Linked DNA regions of Homo sapiens: regions 1, 2 and 3 are each reported to be linked to region 4. Evidence: microRNA targets listed by miRTarBase, many of them from high-throughput screens and not tested one by one. Region 4 holds a microRNA gene; each other region holds the end of a gene's coding sequence. Distances are from middle to middle.
Evidence for each region. The annotated mature microRNA hsa-miR-6832-3p reads ACCCUUUUUCUCUUUCCCAG and lies in region 4 at 3,138-3,157, opposite strand. An mRNA with a match to its seed (bases 2 to 7 or 8) in the 3' UTR can be bound and repressed. Matches are read on the target gene's strand: a 7mer-m8 pairs with bases 2 to 8, a 7mer-A1 pairs with bases 2 to 7 and ends in A, and an 8mer does both.

Region 1: miRTarBase lists SAMD5 as a target of hsa-miR-6832-3p. Seed matches in the 3' UTR shown: 7mer-m8 at 1,004-1,010, 8mer at 1,032-1,039, 7mer-m8 at 3,055-3,061 and 7mer-A1 at 3,345-3,351.
Region 2: the mRNA of SGTB is a reported target of hsa-miR-6832-3p. Seed matches in the 3' UTR shown: 7mer-m8 at 3,366-3,372 and 7mer-A1 at 1,541-1,547.
Region 3: the mRNA of JAG2 is a reported target of hsa-miR-6832-3p. The part of its 3' UTR that is shown has no 7-base or 8-base seed match.

What each region holds. Positions count from the first base shown.
Region 1 is chr6:147,563,504-147,568,568 of GRCh38, forward strand. SAMD5 (sterile alpha motif domain containing 5) reads left to right here. Exons shown (of 2, transcript NM_001030060.3): 2 at 891-5,065. The coding sequence ends at 953. Among named protein-coding and RNA genes, the nearest start is that of SAMD5, 57 kb to the left of the region's middle.
Region 2 is chr5:65,665,713-65,670,777 of GRCh38, forward strand. It overlaps SGTB (small glutamine rich tetratricopeptide repeat co-chaperone beta), which reads right to left. Exons shown (of 11, transcript NM_019072.3): 11 at 216-4,645. The coding sequence ends at 4,534. It overlaps TRAPPC13 (trafficking protein particle complex subunit 13), which reads left to right. Exons shown (of 13, transcript NM_024941.4): 13 at 1-521. Among named protein-coding and RNA genes, the nearest start is that of TRAPPC13, 43 kb to the left of the region's middle.
Region 3 is chr14:105,138,322-105,143,386 of GRCh38, forward strand. JAG2 (jagged canonical Notch ligand 2) reads right to left here. Exons shown (of 26, transcript NM_002226.5): 26 at 2,674-4,849. The coding sequence ends at 4,374. Among named protein-coding and RNA genes, the nearest start is that of MIR6765, 10 kb to the right of the region's middle.
Region 4 is chr6:31,631,926-31,636,995 of GRCh38, reverse strand. It overlaps MIR6832 (microRNA 6832), which reads right to left and starts at 3,209; the gene lies at 3,138-3,209. It overlaps PRRC2A (proline rich coiled-coil 2A), which reads right to left. Exons shown (of 31, transcript NM_004638.4): 16 at 4,004-5,070; 17 at 3,349-3,617; 18 at 3,007-3,137; 19 at 2,631-2,760; 20 at 2,439-2,524; 21 at 2,019-2,243; 22 at 1,724-1,864; 23 at 1,531-1,602; 24 at 1,247-1,414; 25 at 947-1,029; 26 at 577-787; 27 at 388-486; 28 at 51-263. RefSeq lists a silencer at 2,154-2,317.

The DNA of each region.
Region 1 (5,065 bases), 120 Mb from region 4:
GACTCAGGCATCCTTCTTCCTTCCAACTTTCCTTTTCTTCCTCTTCTTTGTCCATCTAGATCTGTCAAGGGATTGTGGGCACACAGCAGAGCCATGACAGATGGGCAGTGCACTGTAATCTACTGCTGCCTTTCAATTTCAGAGGGATCATTGTGACAATGAAGGGGTTAAAACTGTCAACACCTATCAGAGCTTGGAGATAATTAGTGTAATATAAACCCAAGAACTTTGATGGCAAAGACCACACAGCAAATGAATTCGACTAGGTTGCTGCTTTGTAAGAAATACTTAATTAACCTCTTTCCAGCTCACGTGCAACTATGGTTTTTACATGCCTATGTGAAAAAGTTACTGTTTATACATACAGATGATAATGATTAAATATGACTGTGAATCATTTTTACTTTGGAAGATGCATTTCAAACTAGCACTTGCAGCTACAAGTTGAAAAGATAAGTGCTCTTCCAGCATGAGATAGGTCGCCTTTGGAATGTCTCACAATGTATTGACTATTGCTCTAGTACTAACGTTGCTAACGTGTAGTACTGAGTAATGTGACTTAGGAATGCAAACTATTACAAGGTATATTTTTATCTAACCATTTTTTTTTAAGTTTCCACCTCTTAGAAGGAACATAAAAGGAAAATAAAGTAGGCCTTTTTAAACAAAATATAGGCTTGACAAGGATAAAATGCATTCTTTTTTAATTAGCTTGAAAGAGAAAATTGATAGATAACAAGCAAAAACTCTTAGGGCTGTTCTTCAAAAGTCCATGTGGTAAGCAGAAAGGGACAAGAATGACTTAAAAATAGGAGCAGAAATCCATGATGGACTAGGGGAAGAATGGGTAAAGGAGAACTTCAATAACCCAGATATGTTCAAATCCACAGGTCCCAATGGCTGGCATCCTAGAGTACTTAATGAATTGGCCGAAGTCATCACAGAGCCGCTAGATATCATTTTTGAGACCTCGTGGAGGACTGATGAGGTGCCTGAAGACTGGAAAAGGGCATATTTAGAACCTTCTTTCAAAAAGGGAAATGGATGATGACCCTGGAAATACTCATCAGCTTAACTTTTTGCTTGGACAAATTCTGGAATAATCAACTTAGTAAACTGGGTAACTGGCTTATAACAGCTAGAAATAAGGCAGTGAACTATCACGCATAAAGAAGTATTGAGTTCATTTTTTTAAGAAGATATCATGATGAGATACAGTCTTATGCATTTCTTGGCATTCTCCCTTCCATTCTTAATGAAAACAGATGAGGTTGGCTAAGGCATTTGAGTCATAACTTAGTTTAAGTACAATATAACAAAAAGGTAGATTTCTGACAGTAAGTAGTAATTATATTATTTCCAAATTTGCTTTTAACTTGAGAACAGTAGCTTTAATTTTTATATTCAAGCATACATTCTACTTCATTTCATATAGGACCATGTTTTTATAAGATAAGATACATAATTCTATGTAGAATAGTTTGGTGAAGGAATTCTTATTTTAAGGTGCTTTTATATAGTTATTTTGTATATTGGTACAATGTTAAAGGTGATGAATTAAGGAACATCACCAAGAGAGGACAATTTCTTCTAACTTCTCTTTTTAAATTTAATCTGGCTGAGGTTTAGTATTAGGACTAATACAAGTGTCTTGCTCTGACATGCATCAAGCAAGAGCTAGCTATTTTACTTCATAGCTAGTTTCTTGCACTCTGTGGAGACTGCCAGGGCCGCAGCTCACAGCCTGTTCTGAGCTGCAGTGCTTTATCCCACCTTGCTCTCCAGGCTTCTGACTTCAGGCCTGTGGGGGCCGGGAGGTGGGCAGCGGCAGTGGCCTGAGGAGCCCTGTAGAACTACGGCTGAAAAAGAAAGTAGATTGAGGTGGGGGGAGGAAATTAACAGGAATCTAGAGTTTTTCTAATTCTTATCGTCTTATCGTTCTTGTGTTTGGATGCTGGTAGTTTTTTTTTTTTTAGACAGAGTCTCGCTCTGTCACCCAGGCTGGAGTGTAGTGGCACAATCTTGGCTCACAGTGACTTTCGCCTCCCAGGTTCAAGGAATTCTCCTGCCTCGGCCTCTTGGTAGCTGGGATTACAGGCACGCATCACCACACCCAGCTAATTTTTTTGTATTTTTAGTAGAGATGGGGTTTTACCATGTTGGCCAGGCTGTTCTTGAACTCCTGGCCTCAAATGATCCACTCGCCGTGGCCTCCAGTAGCGCTGGGATTACAGGCGTGAGCCATCACACCCGGCCTGGATGCTGGTAGTTTTATTTTCTGCTTAGAAAACGCAACCATGTTGATGGGACCAAAAACTTAGTTGAAAGAAGCCATGGCAAAAGATGTTGACGTACAACTGGCTCCTGAGGCTGTCAATTGTTTAGAGCTCCCAAGTAGTACTGCATTACGGAATCTACTACTTAGAAGAATGTACAAGATGTAAGTTCCCATCGGCACCGTCATGGTAAGAAGAATAAGAAACTCTCAAAGGAAAAGAAACTTACATTCACTTTTTCCTGGTCCATTTTGGTTCCTAAGAATAGATAGGCCATTAAGAAGGATATTAGGTTTCTAAGGACAATTTTAACACAATACTGCTTTAAAAATCTGAAGTTTAAATAGTTTAGCTATTTCTGTAGGTTAATTCAGGCACTGACTAAAATCAGTCTCATTATCATATACAAATGTAAGGAAGTTAAATTTTAAAAGCATGTATAGGTTGTCCTTAAATTATACAAAAGCTTTTAGTTTCATCAGGATTATATTCCAGTTAACCTTTCATCTTTTTTTTTTTTCCAAATGAACTAGGGTCTTTAAAATTCCTAAGTAGATTCTTTTGAGTGGTAGGGGAGTCTGTATAGATTACAGATATAATTTATTGTGATAACAAATGGCTTCCTGTTTGACCTCATTTCCAGGTGTCGCATCCGTGGCTGATTTATTTCACAGATGTACATTTGCATGTACTTGTTGAACTTTGCTAGGAAGGACTCAATTTTTGAAAAATCTGTTATTTTCACTGTGGGCCTTATGAGGCAATCTACTGCAATGGAAAAAGGGTTCCTTGGTCATTTCAAGTTTTATTTTCTATTAGAGTAATATCTAACTTCAATTATTTTGCCAGGTTTAAACCTTCTCTCTGTGTCTGTGGTTAGAATTTGAAAATAACAATGCTCTGCTTAAAGTAAGAGTCACAGTCAGCAAAAAAAGCCAATGGATTTTAAAAAGACATCTTAGTTAAAGCTAGAGGAAGAAAACTTCAAATAAGCAAAGAAGTATTGAAGGATGCCCACGAATTCCTTTGCATTAAAATCAAGATGAGGTAAGAGGTAGAATATAAGAGAAAGGGATTATTTTTACCATGAATTGTATCTGGGGACAGTTAGTCTTAGAAGGAGTAATTTTTTCAGCGTTTTTCCTCTGTATCTAAACACCAATAATATACTTAATTTTTGAATATAAAAGAAGTAGCAATTGACTAAGAATAAATATGTTATAAAAACTAGGGGATTATCTTGATTTACATTTCCTAGAGTATTAAAAGAGATTAATTACAGACTTTCACTTGATAATATTGAGGAGTCTGGAGGGTCATAGCAAAATTTTCTTTAGTTCATCTTAAAATTTAGGGAGGTAAAAAAAGATTTTATTCACATAAAAGATTTCTTGGCATAGGGAAGGCGTAATGTTAAGGGCTTCTTCCTTACCCAAGTGGGAGCTGAACCAGTAATTGTGGGGAAAACTGAATTTATAGCAACAAAGGATAGTAGTTTCTCAACTGGGAGCATACGAGCAATTTCTCAGTTCAGAGATATTTATAGCATCTTGGTGTTATGCAATAAACAATGACAACAACAAGCATTGAGCTTTCACTTTGGAGTTACTCAGATCTGAGTTTAAATTCTAAAATTATTCTAGTAGTATTTTCCTGCGGTGAATCTGTTAAGGATGTAAGCTATAGTGTAGCTTGGGGAATCATCTTGAACAGTTATGAAACTCATTAAAGCTTCTTTTCCCTTGTCTGTAAAATGGGAAAAATAAATACCTCTATAGCTCTTAAGAGGCTTAAGAGTTCTATGGCTTACACCCACATACAGTCCTTGGCTCAGTGCTAGGCATGTAGCAGGTGCTGACTGCCTCTCTCCCTTCCCTTCTTTACTCTCAGTTGTCTTATTTCTTCTTATGCAGAAGAGATTACCTTAAAGCTGACTAGAAAACTCAGACATAAATTGACATTTCCTTATCATTGCCTGAAACCCACTGAATAAGTCCCCTTTGATTTCTCTCAGGAAGGATAAAAAAGGCTACAGTACCTGCTCATAGGAGTTCAGTAAATGTTTATTGATTGAATGAAAAGAATTTGATTTAAGGAAACAATAACACTCCATCCTGGGCAACAGAGCAAGATCCCGTCTCAAAACAAAACAAAACAAAACAAAACAGCAAATTCATAAAGGCCAGCAGTTTTCAAGTCTGGGGAAATAGGCACATGGACAGATTATATGAAGGTATTTCATTAGCTTTCTTCTCTTTATGGCAGCTTCAGATTGATGAATTTGAGGTACAAATGAGTGAGTGACATATGTATATTTTCCTCTGATTTTATGACTGATTTACAAATTAGGAGTGCAAATGGGCTGTTCCCCGATAGCATCTTCTGGGAAGAATCCAACCAAGATACAAAGCAGATGATGGTGGATCGGCAAACTCTTTTCTATGAAAAGAAAAACCAGATATACCAGGGACTGGAAAGCACCTGCTTGAAAATTGATATGAGCATGTCTGAATTTTTCCCTTATAAGAGCCTGAGTATTGTAACAGGTCTCTTGCACAGGGGGTTGAAAAATAAAAAAAGAAGTTAACATAATTAAAATGCTTGGACAAAACATTTGCTTTATATAGATTCTTACAAGTAATATTTGATTAGGTATCAAAATAGGTTTAGGCAGGTGGAAGTTCTGAATTTCAAGGCAAATAAGGCATGAAGGGTGGAACATTGCATCTAGGGAAAATAAGAGAAATAAGTGAAAGTCTGACCCTACATTGCCAATTCTCAGACCAAGT
Region 2 (5,065 bases), not on the chromosome of region 4:
TCTCCATGTAATCACACTTAGTTATGAGCAAAGCAGTGAGAAAGTTGAGGTGATAAACAACTTTGCAGCATTAATGTAACAAAAAGTTTCAGTATTTGTCAGGAAAACAAAAGCTTAGGCTGTTAAATAAAAGCTATTCTATTTTGGTAAGTTGAAATTCAAGAATGTATATATAATTTCTTAAATGTAAGAGTGCATTAAATCAAATACAAAAATTGGTTTTTCAATGCATCATTATTTATTGCCATAACAAATTGTTTGGTCCAAAATGAAAGCTATATTCAGAAGGTTTGCACCTCAAAATTGAGTAATAATTAATGAAATGTCTGTACAAAATAAAGTGCAAGCAGTGTAAAATTGAAGTCTGTCTTTGTTTCAAAATGATTAAGATTAAATGATGAAATAATATTTTATAGCCACTGCATTGGATACTTGGATTGTTTTTCAAGCATCTTCTTATGACTAAATCTTCTGTTTCATTCTGTTTTAAATCTAAAAAGTAAAATGATGGTCACTTGGAATCTGCTCTATATTTTAATTATAGTCTCTTCTGTTTATAAACAATAACTTACACATATTTTTCATAGTTTTAAGTAAAGATTAAATAATGCCATCTTAGAAAGGATCTGTTTAACCTATATTATAAAAGTTAGATACACAATTTGGTACATTAAATGAAAATGTCATTTGCATATATAGAACCTGTTCTGTTTTACACAGTATCATAATAGCTACAGCTACTACAAGAAATATGGTTAATGGAAGTCAAACATTTAGTACGATGCTTAAAGAGTTACTTTAATAATGCCCTCTTATTTTTCTAGTTAGATAGCAACTATATTTCCCAGACAAGCAAGAAAATATATGGGGCATTTTTTATAAATTTAAAAGTAGCTAGCACAATCCAACCACGCAACTTTTTTTGAAATAGCTTGCAATGCTATGATTCCAAAGTGATCAAGGTACTTGAAGAGCAAAAATGGCTTGAATAGAATGGAAATGTAGGCAAGTGGACAGATAGCATCTAGATTGAATTTGTTACAGGTGGTATATTAGCAAAGAAATAGAAAAATGAAATGGAAGAAATATACCAATTCCCATTATTTCATGTAAAAAGAATGGCTAATTTAACTACAGATGTTAGCACATGAAGACATTGTTTTAAAGTTTTTTTTCTTATAGTATCTTTGTCTGGGTAATACTGGTCAAATAAAATGAGTTGGGAAGTATTTCCTCCTCTTCTGTTTCCTGGAAGAGATTGTTTAGAATTGATATTATTTCTCCCTTAAGTGTTTGGTAAAATTCATCACGGAAGTTATCTGGGCCTGTAGTTTTCTTTACTGGAAGGTTTTTAACTTAACCACAAACTCAATTTCCTTAATAAATATGGTTCTGTTTAGGTTATCTGTTTCTACAGTGAGCTTTCTAGTTTGTATCCTATAGGGAATCTGTTTCATCTAAGTTGTTAAATATACAATCCTTGAGTTGGTCATGGTGTTTTCTAGTTAGCCTTTTAATAACTATAGTGTCTGTAGTGTATTCCCTTTCATTTCTGACACTGAATTTGTATCTTCTGTTTTTCTAGGCAGTCAGCTAGAAGCTTATCTTATTGCTCTAAAAGCATTTTTAATGCACTCAAGATAGTTATGCTAGAAACTTTAACTTCTTATTCAACACTGAATATGAGTGACTAATTTTTAATTAAGGATCTATTTTGCTTTTTATATCACAGTAATGACTTCTATGTGTTAGTAGTAGTACTTCGTTCTGTGTAATACTGGAATACTAGGAGTTCATTCTAACTTAATGAAAATCAAAGTTGGCTTAGATGGAATATGAATTTAACTTCTGAGGGCCGAAGACTTAAATTGTGCTCTTTTTAAATTCTGCAGAACTATATATCTTCATACAGATCTTCGTTGTAGCTTTGTTTGGCCCAGGTGCTTAGGTGTTTGCAGGTCTGAGAAACCTCTAACCTAGTGTTCCTCTAAATTAGAGTCCTTGGATCTGTATCAAAACCACCTAGTGTACTGTTTAAAAATGGCCATTCCTAGGCCTTATTACAGGACCTACTGTATCAGAATTGAACACGTGGCCCTGAATCTGCATCTTTAATGAATTATCCAGGTGATTCTTACAATGAAGTTATAGAACTACTGTTCTAATGTCACAAAGGAGAAAGAGAAAAGTTGGATTTTAAACTTCAAGATACAAAATAATTAGTCTCTTAGTCTCTTTTTCTTTTTTTTTTTTTTTTTGAAATGGAGTCTTGCTCTGTCACCCAGGCTGGAGTGCAGTGGCGCAATCTTGGCTCACTGCAACCTCTGCCTCTCAGGTTCGAGCAATTCTCATGCTTCAGCCTCCCAAGTAGCTGGGACTACGGGTGCCCGCCACCAAGCCAGGCTAATTTTTGTATTTTCAGTAGAGGTGGGTTTCACCATGTTGGCCAGGCTGGTCTCAAACTCCTGACCTCAGGTGATCCCCCCTGCCTTGGCCTCCCAAAGTGCTGGGATTACAGGCATGAGCCACAGCGCCCGGCCAATTAGTCTTTTGATAAGGGTTCTATAAGGCCTAATCATCTGCATTATTACTCATTTAATTGTATATTACTTCCTGGCCAGGCACAGTGGCTCACACCTCTAATCCCAGCACTTTGAGGGGCCAAGATGGGCAGATCACTTGAGGTCAGGAGTTCGAGACCAGCCTGGCCGATACGGTGGAACTCTCTCCATTAAAAACAAAAATTAGCGGCCAGGCACGGTGGCTCACGCCTGTAATCCCAGCATTTGGGAGGCCAAGGCAGGCGGATCACGAGGTCAAGAGATTGAGACAATCCTGGCAAACATGGTGAAACCCCGTCTCTACTAAAAATACAAAAATTAGCTGGGCATGGTGACACGTGCCTGTAATCCCAGCTACTCAGGAGGCTGAGGCAGGAGAATCACTTGAACCCGGGAGGCAGAGGTTGCAGTGAGCCGCGATTGCGCCACTGCACTCCAGCCTGGCGACAGAGAGAGACTCCATCTCAAGAAAAAAAAAAAAAAAATTAGCTGGGCGTGGTGGTGGGCGCCCGTAATCCCAGCTACTTGGGAGCTTAAGGCTCGAGAATCACTTGAATCCAGGAGGTGGAGGTTGCAGTGAGCTGACATTGCAACACCACTCTAGCCTGGCAAAAGAGTAAGACTCCATCTCAAAAAAACCCCACAAAATTTATATTACTTCCTTTTTCAGTTTTCCCTCGTAAAACTTGTGAAGTCATTACATGTCAGCACCAATTTCATTATTAATAAACAAAAAATATACTCTAGTTGGAATTAAACTCTCATCATCAATGTAGTTAGACCCATGCAATTAATACCTAATGCCCCTTTTCTCCACTAACTAATATGGCATCTAATTTATAATAAAATATTTTAAGTCTCCTGTTATATTTAAATTGCATCAAATTTAAATTATGTTAATTATAAGACTGGCATGCCAAGCCAAATTATCACAGAAGATTACATGAACAAGCAATGTTAGTGATAGATGCTTTTTGTTATCCATCAAATAATTACTAAGTTTTCTTTTTAAAAAAAATCAGTGTTTATGGGCACACAATTAAATACCATTTAGAAAATCCTTAACTTAGGACCAGGTCACTGGCTTAGTTAAAGTATATTTATATTTGATAGTTTCCAAGGTAAGGTTACCATTGGGGAAATTGTGATAATTAAGTCAAACAGTTGTACCACTGACCTAACCAGTACATTAAGGATTTCTAAATGTATCTTATTGTGTATTTAGCATAAGTGGCCATGCTAATATTATCAATACCAAACTGCAGACAAGATTAGTTAAGAACTATGCAGAAAACCTGAGCATCCTACCTTTACTTTCTATACATTCGCATTACCAATTTTTTCTTTTCAAAACATCCCTTGCATCAAGTGCTACTTTCTAACAGCTCTTAAGATTCTCTGTTCACCAGAACAAGCAACATTAAAGATAACATTGGTTCCCATGTTATATATTCATTACTAATAGCACTTATCAAAGCTAAACCTAGATAATATTCCTTCTTTCCTGACATACTGCTCAGTGGCAAGTACACTTCTTCTCAACCAGCATAGGAAACCTTTCCTTTGGGTCATTTCCCTTCTCAAAAAACTTTGCTTAAGGGAAATTGGAGCTAAAGAGCTTACCAACAAATAGCCCTACTAGAGTTCAATAAATATGCTTTGCTATTAAGTCTAATATACAAATATGATAGAAGTTTGAAAATGGAACCTTATCCCAGTGCTATATTGGCACGTAACATGGCTAGTGATCATTTCAAAAGGAGTCATGTTATGTTTTGAGTTTGTTTGTGATAAACCTATTGTCTAAACAGATTTATTCTTTAAGAATATACACAAGAGGTTTTCCTCCATTATTTTCACACATCAGATATGGTGTTTGGTTTTTTGAAGGAGGGAGGGGGTACTATCTACAACAAATACTTCATTCATAGCCATAAACCATTTGTATCTTGGGCTTGAGCCCCTGGTTAAATCAGGAATGCTCTTCAGCGCTGCTGCTGAATGATCTGCTCCGGATGTGATTTCTCAGTTGCTCTATAAGTTCAGGATTTTGTTGCTGTATCTGCTGAGCAAACTGCTGTCCCCTGTAGTAAAGAGGCAATGTGGTTTGAATAGGGAATTGCCAGTCACATTTACCCACGCAAAAAGAAATGCAGAAAATGTAGGAGCTACCTAAAGGGGGCTTTTTTCTATAAAAACAAGTTTCAGAGCCATGACTTTAGAATCTACAAGTTTACCAATGCCTCCATATAGCATTATTACAATGCAGTGTTCTTTATAAGAAACAAAACACCCATGCTAAAAAAAATAAGTACCTCAACTGGGTGAAATCTACTTCTCTAGTGCTAATGACAAAGAAGCAAAGGGTAAGACGTATATGTTTTTATTGTATGTGCTCAAATACAATGCTTTTATACCCAAGTCTTAATAGTCTCATATAACACCCAGTTTGGGATGCTTTTGGAGGTCACCTAACAAGTAATTTTAAAAACACTAAGAAGTTT
Region 3 (5,065 bases), not on the chromosome of region 4:
TCCCAGGCTGGGTCAGACAGCGCGGTCAGGACGCACCCCTCGGGCCAGGCCAGGCAGGGCCGACCCTTTGCTCCCTGCTCTGACGGTGCAGAATGAGAAGAGGCAGGAGTCTCCGGGGCATGTGCGCACATGGCCCCGCCCACGCCGTCTAGCCTGCAGGTTGGCCTTTGTGCACAGGTCACTCTGCCTGGAAAGTGGTGGCAGGGGTGGTGGCACGGCTCCCTGTAACCCTCTGCCTGAGTGAGCGCCTGCTGCCCAGGGCCGCCTCAGCCAGGCACCCCCCGGGGCTGCAGTGGCCACCTCAAAGTTCCCTCTGCATCCAGACCCTTCCCATCCGAGCCACAAAGCCAACAGCCATGTAGCCTCTGGGCCCAGCTGGGAGCAGCTCCAAAGTGTGGGGAACAGGCCCTGCCCCGCCAGTCGCCGGCACATGCCTCGGAGCCTGGTGTCCCCCAAGCTCACTGCCCACCAGGCTTGGGGAGGCCCAGGTGCTCATTTTGGGGACATGTGCCCCAGTGACAGAGGAGCTCTCCCTCTGTATGGCAGGTCACAGCCCCAGACCTGTCAACAGGAAGAGCAAAGAGTGGAGGCAGTGGGGAGACTGGCCGTTGGGGGCCCCCGCTTCATGGCAGTGCAAGACACAGCGGGCTCCAGGAACTTGGCAGCCAGGACGGGTAGCAGGGCACGCCTGTGTGTCCTGAGGGGCAAACAGGAGTGGCACAGGTCCCAAGCCCAGCGGCCAGAGTAGGGGTGACCACCGGGGTTCCTGCAGCCACAGCCAGAGGGGCCCCAGGGGCCTAGCACCAGCCTGGGGGTGCCAGGGAGCCTGCCTTTCTTCGCTAGATTTGCTGACCACACAGCGCCCTCTCTGGGGGCAGCCACTCACCCACCCACCCACCCACCCACAAGGGAACAAGGCTTTGGTGGCAGCAGGATGGACCCTGAGGCCTAACCCTCACTTGTGGACCCTGGCCTCTGCATAGCGGACTCTGTGAGGCAGGTGAGTGGCACTCAGGAGGTGTGGAGGTGGCCTAGGGTCTGAGGGCAGGGACTGCCAGGCTTACCCCAGGGGGTTGGGCCAGAACCTAGCCCGGCTTCATGACCACACCATGGGGGCAGTAGCACTGAGATGAAGAAGAGCCCCATCGTCTGCCCTGACATGGCGTGAGACAGCAAGCAGGAAGCCTGCTGGCCGGGCCTGGACCTCTTGACACTGCCATCCACATGGGCTGGCCATGGCCAGGCACCAGCCAGGCCTGAAAAGGTGCAAGGTCCCCTAAGTGGGGGGTTATGACTGAGTATGGGGTGGAGGGAGGCCATGAACTCCCAGTGGGCTCAGGACACTGGATGGCGAGCTCAGGGTGGGGGGCGGCAGGCCCGCCCACCATGGACACACGCAGGCAACTGCAGAGGCTCTCAGCTCAACCCATGCACACTTGGTGCATGAATGATCCCTGAGTGCCACCCCTCCACCTCCAACAGCCACACACCCTTACACGGGCATGGAGGCCAGACTACGTCCTGTGAGACTCCAAGCCAGATGCATCTCCCGGAGGTTACAGGGGCTTCCCCAGAATCTGGGGAACACATTGGCACAGCCAGAAAGGGCCAGGCCTGTGGGACACTTCCTGCAGAAGTAACTGGGCAACCCAGCCCCACCTATGACACCCGCTATACCTGCCGCACCTACTTACTGCTCACCCTATGCCTGATGGGCTCCTGTGGGCCTCAGGACAGCCCCTGCCAGGCCCTTGCCTGGGGCCCCCTCCTCAGCTGCTGATGCTATTTTCTATCTCTTGTCCTGGGGGGCAGCCTGGATCATTTCTTCTCACCTGTCTTCTAGTTCACAAATTCTCTCTTTAGCAGTGTCTAAGCGTGGCTGCCAAACTACTTCTGGAGTGTTTGGTTTGAAGGCTGTATTTTTTTTTCCATTTCTAGAAGTTCTACTTGGTGCTAGGTTGAAGTTTGGCCTATCAGCTTTTCCAAGCCATCTTTGAGCACAGCAAGCTTTTTACAATCCATGTCTGAGAATTCCAGTACACTCGGATGCCTCTGCACACATTTCTCATGGCTTTCGATCATGGTGCCAGGTTCCCGTGTACTTGGTTTGATTGTGGTCTACTCACTGACCTGGAAAACTCATTCATGAGGTGTACAGATGTCTAGGACAAAGGTGATTTGCATTTGGTTCTACCAGGAACCTAGGGAACTGCAAGTTAGGTACACACCGTTTAAAAGGAAACTCAAAGCCTGCCGTCTTTTTGGCCAACCTGGTGGTGGGAACATGGGCTTCAGGTCCACACGAGTCATGGTGTACACGACTCCTCAGTGGCTGCCCTTCTGCCTGAACTGCCTGGCCAACCCCTTGGGGCCACGGCAGGAGGTGGGTTTAACCCTTGCCCCCACCCTGAGGGCACAAGCCTTGGGCTTGTGAGCAACTGATGGCAAGCAGGGTCTCCTACCAGCTCCTCTGTGTGTCCCTGCAGACCTGGCTCAATACAATGGAGAAGCCGATGGGAGGACTCCAGCCGGAGTGAGGGAGACTGTCCCTCTAGTGCACACCATAGCTCATTTGCATGGCTTCCTGGAGTCCACAGCAGCAGTGCTCAACAACAGACATCCAGAGTAACTTCTGCAGCAACGAGCGGGTCTTAAGGAATTACCAGGTCAAAATTTTTATTCGTTCATTCATTTATTCATTTGTTCTGCCTGTGCAAGGCAGCCTCACTCCCAGGCTGTCAGCAGGACTTTTTTTTTCTCTTTTGTACAGATCTGGTTCTTGGCTTTGCTCCTTGACTCAGTTGACCTCCTACCCCTCACAGCAGGGTAAAGACTTGCACATCACTGACAGGCGGCTCGGAGTCAGCCTTGGAGTCGGCCTTCCATGCCCAGCCCTGAGGCCACCATGCCACGTTCCAGTTGGCTCAAGCAGTGAGGGGCAAAACCAGCTCCAGGGCCAGGTGGAAGGGCTGCTTCTCTCCTGCCTCCATCAAATGCTGACCTTGCCTCTGAATGACCAAGCAAAACAAAGGAATAAATGAATGAATAAAAATTTTGACCTGTTAATTCCTTAAGACCTTGATACGTATTCGTGGGTAAGCAATTTTATACTATTTTATAAAACTGTTTTCAGCTGTTTTAGTCAGGGTCGGGTGCCAGGCACCTAGACACCCCCCTCCCCATTCCCAGGAAGGTTTTGGCCAAACCTGCATCCACCACCTTGGCATGCCAACGCATTCGAGGCCCTGGCAGGCCCCGACTCAACAGAACCGTCTCGCCCTCTACAGCCACCACAGCCACGTGGGCCAATACCCAGCACGCGCCCCACTGCCCCAAGCCTCTCTGCCGGCGTGGCTCTCCCCCAACCTCACTCTCAATACAAAAGGGACAGCACCGAAAGAACAAGGGAGGCCGGAATGGTGGCATTATTCAATCAAATATACAGAGTGCTTCCTTTAATATGTACACATTTACAAAAATGCACTTTCACGAGGAGGGGCGGCCGGGGCCGGCAGGTGGGCAGCGCCTGGTGCCACGGCACGCGTGGACAGTTGCGAGGGGTCTGTGTGAAGGCACTTGTCACGAGCTTCAATACTGCCGCCGTCCCAGGATGGGAGAACTGCGCAGCAGGAAGGGCACTTCTGAAAGCACAGTGGAGAGATCGCTGGAGCGGGCGTTCTGGGCAGGAGGAAGCACAGACGGCAGGCAGGGTGGACTGGCCAGCAAGCGCGAGGTTGACCTGCCAGCCTTGGGCCACGCCGATGACCTCAGGCCCCACTAACAACCACAGGTGCGTCAACAGCCACGGGCCGTGCCGGCAGCCAGGGCCACATCAATAACCAGGGTCCCACCGACCACCGTAGGTCCCACCGACAGCCACAGGTCCCATTGACAGCCACGAGTCCCACCGACAGCCACAGGCCACACCATCAGCCACGGGTCCCACCAACAGCCATGGGCCACACCAACACAGCCATGGGTCTCACCGGCACTTTGGCCTGGAGCCACAGAGAAACCCGAGTGAGGAATAAAAGGAAGATTCTGTAAACAGTGCACAACCTCTGGTAACAAACGCTACGATTTGGTGACGACGCAGACACCCTTTGCTCTCTCCTTTCATACAGCGAGTGCCACGCACGGAAACTTTACAAAAATAGCAACTATCCGAGAATACTCCATTGTTTTCAGCCTGACAGTTACTGAATAATTTATACAAGGTTAAAGAAACGTAGAAAATAAACATTTGGTTTTTGTTTTTGGTGGTTTTTTTACACAAAATAAAGAAACTATGCACATGGCCTCGGCCTCCGGGTCCGGCAGACGGCATGGCTCCCACCGAGGGCCCTGGGTCCCGGCCCAGCTGGCAGCCGCCCCTACTCCTTGCCGGCGTAGCGGGCCTCATTGATGCTCCTGACCGCGCGGTTGTCCACTTTGGGGCCTGAGGCCCAGTGGGCCGGCCTCCCCGGCGAGCGGCCAGGATCTTTGGTGAATTTGTGTGAGAGGAACTTCTCCGCCTCCAGGGAGTCCTCCTCACCGCGGCCCAGATCCTCGTCCTCCTCATCCTCCCTGACGGCCGCGTGGCCGGCCGGCCCGGGCAGCGCCTCGTCCGCCCTGCGCGGCGGCGGCGTGAAGTTCTTGCACTGGTAGAGCACGTCCTTGTGGCCCCCCGGCCGCTCAATGGGGTTGCGGATGGGGTTGAGCGGGGCCCACTGGTTGTTGGCGCTCTCCTCCCGCGGCAGCCGGCTCCTCTCCCGCTCTTTCCTGCGCTTGCGTGTCCACCACACGCACAGGACCACGCACGCCAGCCACAGCACGCTGAAGGCACCACACAGCACAGGCACCAGCAGACCTGGGGACCGGGGAGAAGAGCCGGTGGGCAATGAGGCCTGGGCACCTGCGGGGCACTAGCCACACACCCAGGCCTGGGAGGGCCCTGCGGGCCAGGCGGCCGGGCCCCACCCTCCGGTTGCTGGCTCGTGGGGAGGGTCCCAGGACGGGGGCTGGGAAGGTCAGGTTGTGGGGCTGGGCGGCTGGGGCAGCAGGTGCCAGGGACTTCTGTGTTCCT
Region 4 (5,070 bases):
CCTACTCCCAAGTCTTGGCGCTCCCTAGCCCCTCAGTTCCTGTACCTTACCTCTGCTCGCCCCAAGCTAGCGGGGAAGGGCCTGGCAGGTGAAGGCAGCACCCGAGTAGCAGGAGCAGGTGGGGGCCGCACAGCCAGGCTGGGGGGCTGCAGAGCAGGGCCCACAGGTAACAGAGAAAGGGGAGGTGGGGCAGGAGGTGGTGCTGGCGGCAGGGAGCCAAAGTTCACCACAGGCAGCTGTGAGTCTACCATGGGTAGAAGCATCTGTAACAAGAAATTTGGGTGTGCATGTTGGGGGCAGGGAGGAATGTCAGAAAACCAGGGAAAATCAAAGCCAGCAACTGGACAGAGAAATCAAATGAAGGGGAAGTGTGAAGATACAATATACCTGCTGGGCAGGAGCCCCTGAAGGGAGAAAGCCACTTTGGCCACCAGGCTGCAGAGGAGTAGAATAAAAATCCGAAGGGGATGGCAGATCCTGGCGTACCTGTCGGGAAACAGGGAGAAATATATCAACCCCCACAAAATCATTCTCCCTACCCTATCCCCCAATATCTAATACCTGCCCCCCTCTTACCTGAAGCAACGATGTGTCAGGCAAAGGACTGGGGCAGAAAGCCGGAGAGTAGAGGAAGGAAGGTGGAGGGTAGAGAACTCCTCCAGCCGGCAACTTCCCCAGCTCTGTAGCTTGCATTGTGGAGAAATCCAGAAACTGGCCCTTGAGAGCTAACCCAGAGAGCAGTGCTGAGGGAGGGGCTGGGCCGGGGGGTAGGTATAGGGGCTGTGATCTGAAAATAAATTGTGGGGAGAAAAGCTGTTAGGAAGCCAGAGTCCTAGCAATGCCTTAAGTCCACTAGCTTCTAGTACCCTAGAACTGTGTCTTCCCCTTCCCTCTCCCCGAAACACATCTCCAAGTACTTCTGTGATCCACAGGCATCGAGTCTTACCTGTAAGGGTGCAGTGAGGGTGTCCCAGGGCGGAAGCCTCCACTGTTTGGATGTAATTGAGAGTCCATGGCTCCCCCAGAGATCTGCAGGAGAGGAGCACGGTTGAAACAGCTTTAGTATCTGTGGTCAAGAAAAAAGATCACCATCCCACCCATAGAAGCAAAAAGTAGGGAGAAAAATGATGTGACAAAGTGGTATCTCACAACTCTGCAACGTAGAAAGGCTTGATTATAAATACATACCAGGCAGAAAAAAATTATTATTCACTGAAGGGGTCATGCAATGGGAAGCGGGGCCTACCTGAGAACTGGAAGGCCCAGCACTGCCATAGAAAACCTCAGGATACAGGCGCTGGCCTGAGGAGCTGGGCTCCGGGACACAGTGCCCAGAATCCAGGTTCTTGGATTGTGGCTCAGCAGAGGCAGCAGCACTGGGAAGCAGCTCCCAGTCTCGTGATACAGGAATGGCCTGGGAAGGAGAGGCCTCGTGGAGAGGGATGTCTGGCATCCTGGACGCCCTGGTCACTCCCAGCAATCTTCCCCAGAAATCTTGGGCCTTTCCACCAAACTCTTACTCCCACTTACCTCAGTGACTGATGCTGTTAGCTCCTTCTCTGCTTTCAAGCTGTCTCCTACCACTAGGCGTAAGTCTGAGTCCTGTGATCACAAGAAGGCAGGAGACATTGTCCCGTGACAGACATGTGTCCTCTATGTCCCACCTTTAGTCCTTCCCTTCTCTCCACCCAACTCAGGATACCCAGATCCAGCCCACACAGACCTTGTCACTAGTGCCAAACTGGACTGGGGGACCAGGTCGATGGGATGGCCGAATGGGGCCAGGCTCTGTGCCTCGGTCTGTACGCTGTGATCGTTCTGTGCCAATGGGGCCAGGGGGCAGAGGCTGCTCCCGGGGCAGCTCCTGGATTGGGCACACAGTAAAGTGCATTGGGGGAGGGAAAGGGAAATCCAAATTGGAATGCCCAGAACACACACGCAGAGAGAAAAAGCAGAAAAAGGTAGGGCCAAAGTCAGATTCCTGGAAACATTCCCCTTATCCTTTTTTGGTCTTTTACCTTTCTGTCCCCATCGTGGGGGGCAGGTGGTGGTCTCCTAGGAGGTTCAGAGCCAGGTGGACCCTCACAAGGAACAGCATTCAGGGGTGAGGAGCCTCCAGGCCTCTTGGGGGGTCCCTCTGCTGCCCCCTTGAGTCCTCCATCAGGGGAACTTCGCTGGCTGCAGGGACCTGATGACACCTGAGAATCCCCACTCAGGTCCACCCCACTGTCAGACTGACTCATCTGAGAGGAGTGGAGAAGGAGCTAGTTAAGTCAGGGTAGAAAGCACCCCAATACCTGACTGATGCACACATACAAACTGCAGAAAGGGGACAGCCAAGTGAGAGAACAGCTCCAGACTCAACCCAGAGCAGGTGGGGGGTATGACCAGTGCTCAAAAAAGTCCCAGCTCAGACACACCCTCCCACCCTCACTCACTTCTGTGCCAGCCACATCCTCAAAAGGACTCAGGGGCTCCATCCAAGGCTCCATGGAGCTGGGCCGGTAACTCTTTCGGCTAGTGGCTGGAGAAGGGAGCACCAACCAGAAGAGAAGTGAGGAGATGACAGTTCAGAAGCCCCTCTCATTCTTAACCCTTCTACCATAGTCCTTTCACTCAGCTTTACTCACCAGTATGTAAACGGTTCCAGATGTGAGGGGTCAGGGCCTCTGTGCCTGTATCTCTGGACTCTGCCTGAGGGCCTGGGCCCTCAGGCTTAGAGCCCAAGAATCCAGAGCTATGAGGAGGTGGCAAAGATTCCTACAGATGAGAAGGGCCAGAAGCAAAACATGAATTGGGTGGGAATTGGGAATTATAGGAAGCCAGGACAGAGTGGGGTGACACAGGGTGTGGGGACAACAAGGGAGACACATGGGAGACTAATACTGAGAATTCTGGAGTAAAAACACAGTGAAAGAAACAGGAAAGAAAACAGAGAAAACATAACCCAGAAGAATTTTCACGAGTAAGAGTGCAGTGAAGCACAATCTCAAACCCATCCCTTACCTCCTGTAGCAGCTCTGGTTTTCTGGGAGGCCGCTCCCGACGTTTAGGGGGAAAGGGACTAACCCCGGCAGAGTCCCGAGGAGTCCCACCCACCCCTCTCACCATTGGCCCCGGCTCCTCAAAGTGGGGGTCTGGGAAAGAGAAAAAGGGTCAGCATCTGCCTGGCTCTGCCACTGACCCTAACTTTTCCTCTCTACTCCACCTCCCAATTCTTCTACCCTTGCTCCCTGCAGAAACGCACCCAGCAGCAGGGTCCCTAGGCCAGGTTCTCCACCCGCTCCCTCCAGCACTTGACCTTCTCTGGGGATGGAGATATTCCCACCCATAACCCCTCCAGCTTACCAGAACTGAGGCCGCTGTTGACCCTCTGGGGCTCGTATCGGGTTGGGGGCCTAGGAGAGGGGCCCTGAGGGGCTTGGGGAAGCCCAGGCTTGTGCCTTGGATGACCCCCTGGTGCAGTTACACTCCCTTGACGGCTACTAAGCTGGGCCAGAGCCTGTTGGATGCCAGCAGGGTTGCTGTGGATAACTTGGTCCAGGCGGAAGACAGCAGAACTGCTGGGAGGTGGGGGAGGCAGGGGAAGCCCCGGGGGACGCTCCTCTGGAGGACGACTGGAGAAAACAGAGCATTAGCTCCAGTATCCACTAAATCGTTACTTTTTCCCACAAGTTATGTTTCCCAACTTCTGCTTACAACCTATTCTCTTCCCTATTAAAGTCCAGGTGTTTTTGAGTCCTTCTAAGGATTCCTATGCATACAGATGCACAGACTGGAAAGCAAAGAACCAGCAATGAATACATAGGTGGGTGTTCTTGACTCTAACACCCTACCAACCGCTTTCCAGTTGCCTTAGCCAGACATGGAAATCCTACTGACATTCTAGAGCCCATGGCCCCTCAGGCCACAATCTCCACTCCACCCAAACTTATCTTTCCCTCAGGCTTTTTCCCCCTCCTCCAATTTTTAAACCACAATAAATTTGTTTGTTCCTACCCACCTTCGGTTCTTGGGAGAGGGCCAGCTCCTCTTGTCGCCTCGTCCTGGCCCGGTCCTTCCTCCAGGACCCCCACCGCCTCCTCCACTGCTGCTGCCACTGCTGCCAGCCTTGCCCCCTGGGCCAGGGCGCCGATTCTGCCGTTCCATGCCTGGCCGCTGACTTGAGAAGCTCCGTTTACTCAAATCCTTGGCTCTCTGGCTCAGATCTCCGCGGGACATGGCTGAAATACCTGGTACGGCTCCACCTCCACCTCCCCCAGGAGTTCCCACAGCCTTGGGTGTCAGCAGTACTGGTGGGGGTGCCTCTTTGTCCCCTCGGCGCTCACTGGTGAAGTCACTGCTCTCTGATGCAGTCTCCCATTCCTCATTGGCTTGGTCTGAGTTCTGGTTTGACAGATCAGGAGACTTGGCAGCTGCCCGGCGAGGTGCTGGGGCCACTGTGACTGTTGTGAGGGCCTCCTCAGGTCCAGGAGCGGAGGCTGGAAGGGTTAGGGAGGGCTTGCCCTCAGACCCCCTTGCGGCATTCTCCCGTTCCTGCTTCAGCCTCCGGAAACGAGGCGGTTTATCCTGCTGCTGAGCCCTCCCATGTCGCCTCCTTCGGGGTCGCTCCCCATCTTCCATGCCCACATTGCTACCTCCATTGCTGCCTCCGCGCGCCACAGGGGACAGAGGCCCTGGGATCAACTTCTCTTTCAAAGGCTCCTTACTTGGTGGCAAAGGGCCTGTGGGAGGTTTCTTGGGAGCCAGAGACTTGGCTGGAGGGCTCCAGCCTGGGCAAACTTGAGGAGGGGGCCTCCCTCCTCCTCGGCCCCGGCGAGATGGCACCCCTCTGGGAGTGAAGACTCGCCCACCCCGGGCAGTGAAGCGGGCTGGGGCTGGTGAAGGTGGGGCTCCTGGTGGTGGGGGAGCGAGAGGGACCTGGGTGAGTGTTCCCTCCTTGGGTGTGGGAGCCTCCTTGTCTGAAGGAGCCAGATCACTCTCATGGGTCTCGCTGCCTGTTTCTGAGCCCCGCTGCCGGCGCCGCTTGGGGATTTCCTCATACTCTGAACCCTCGCTCCGTGTCTCGCT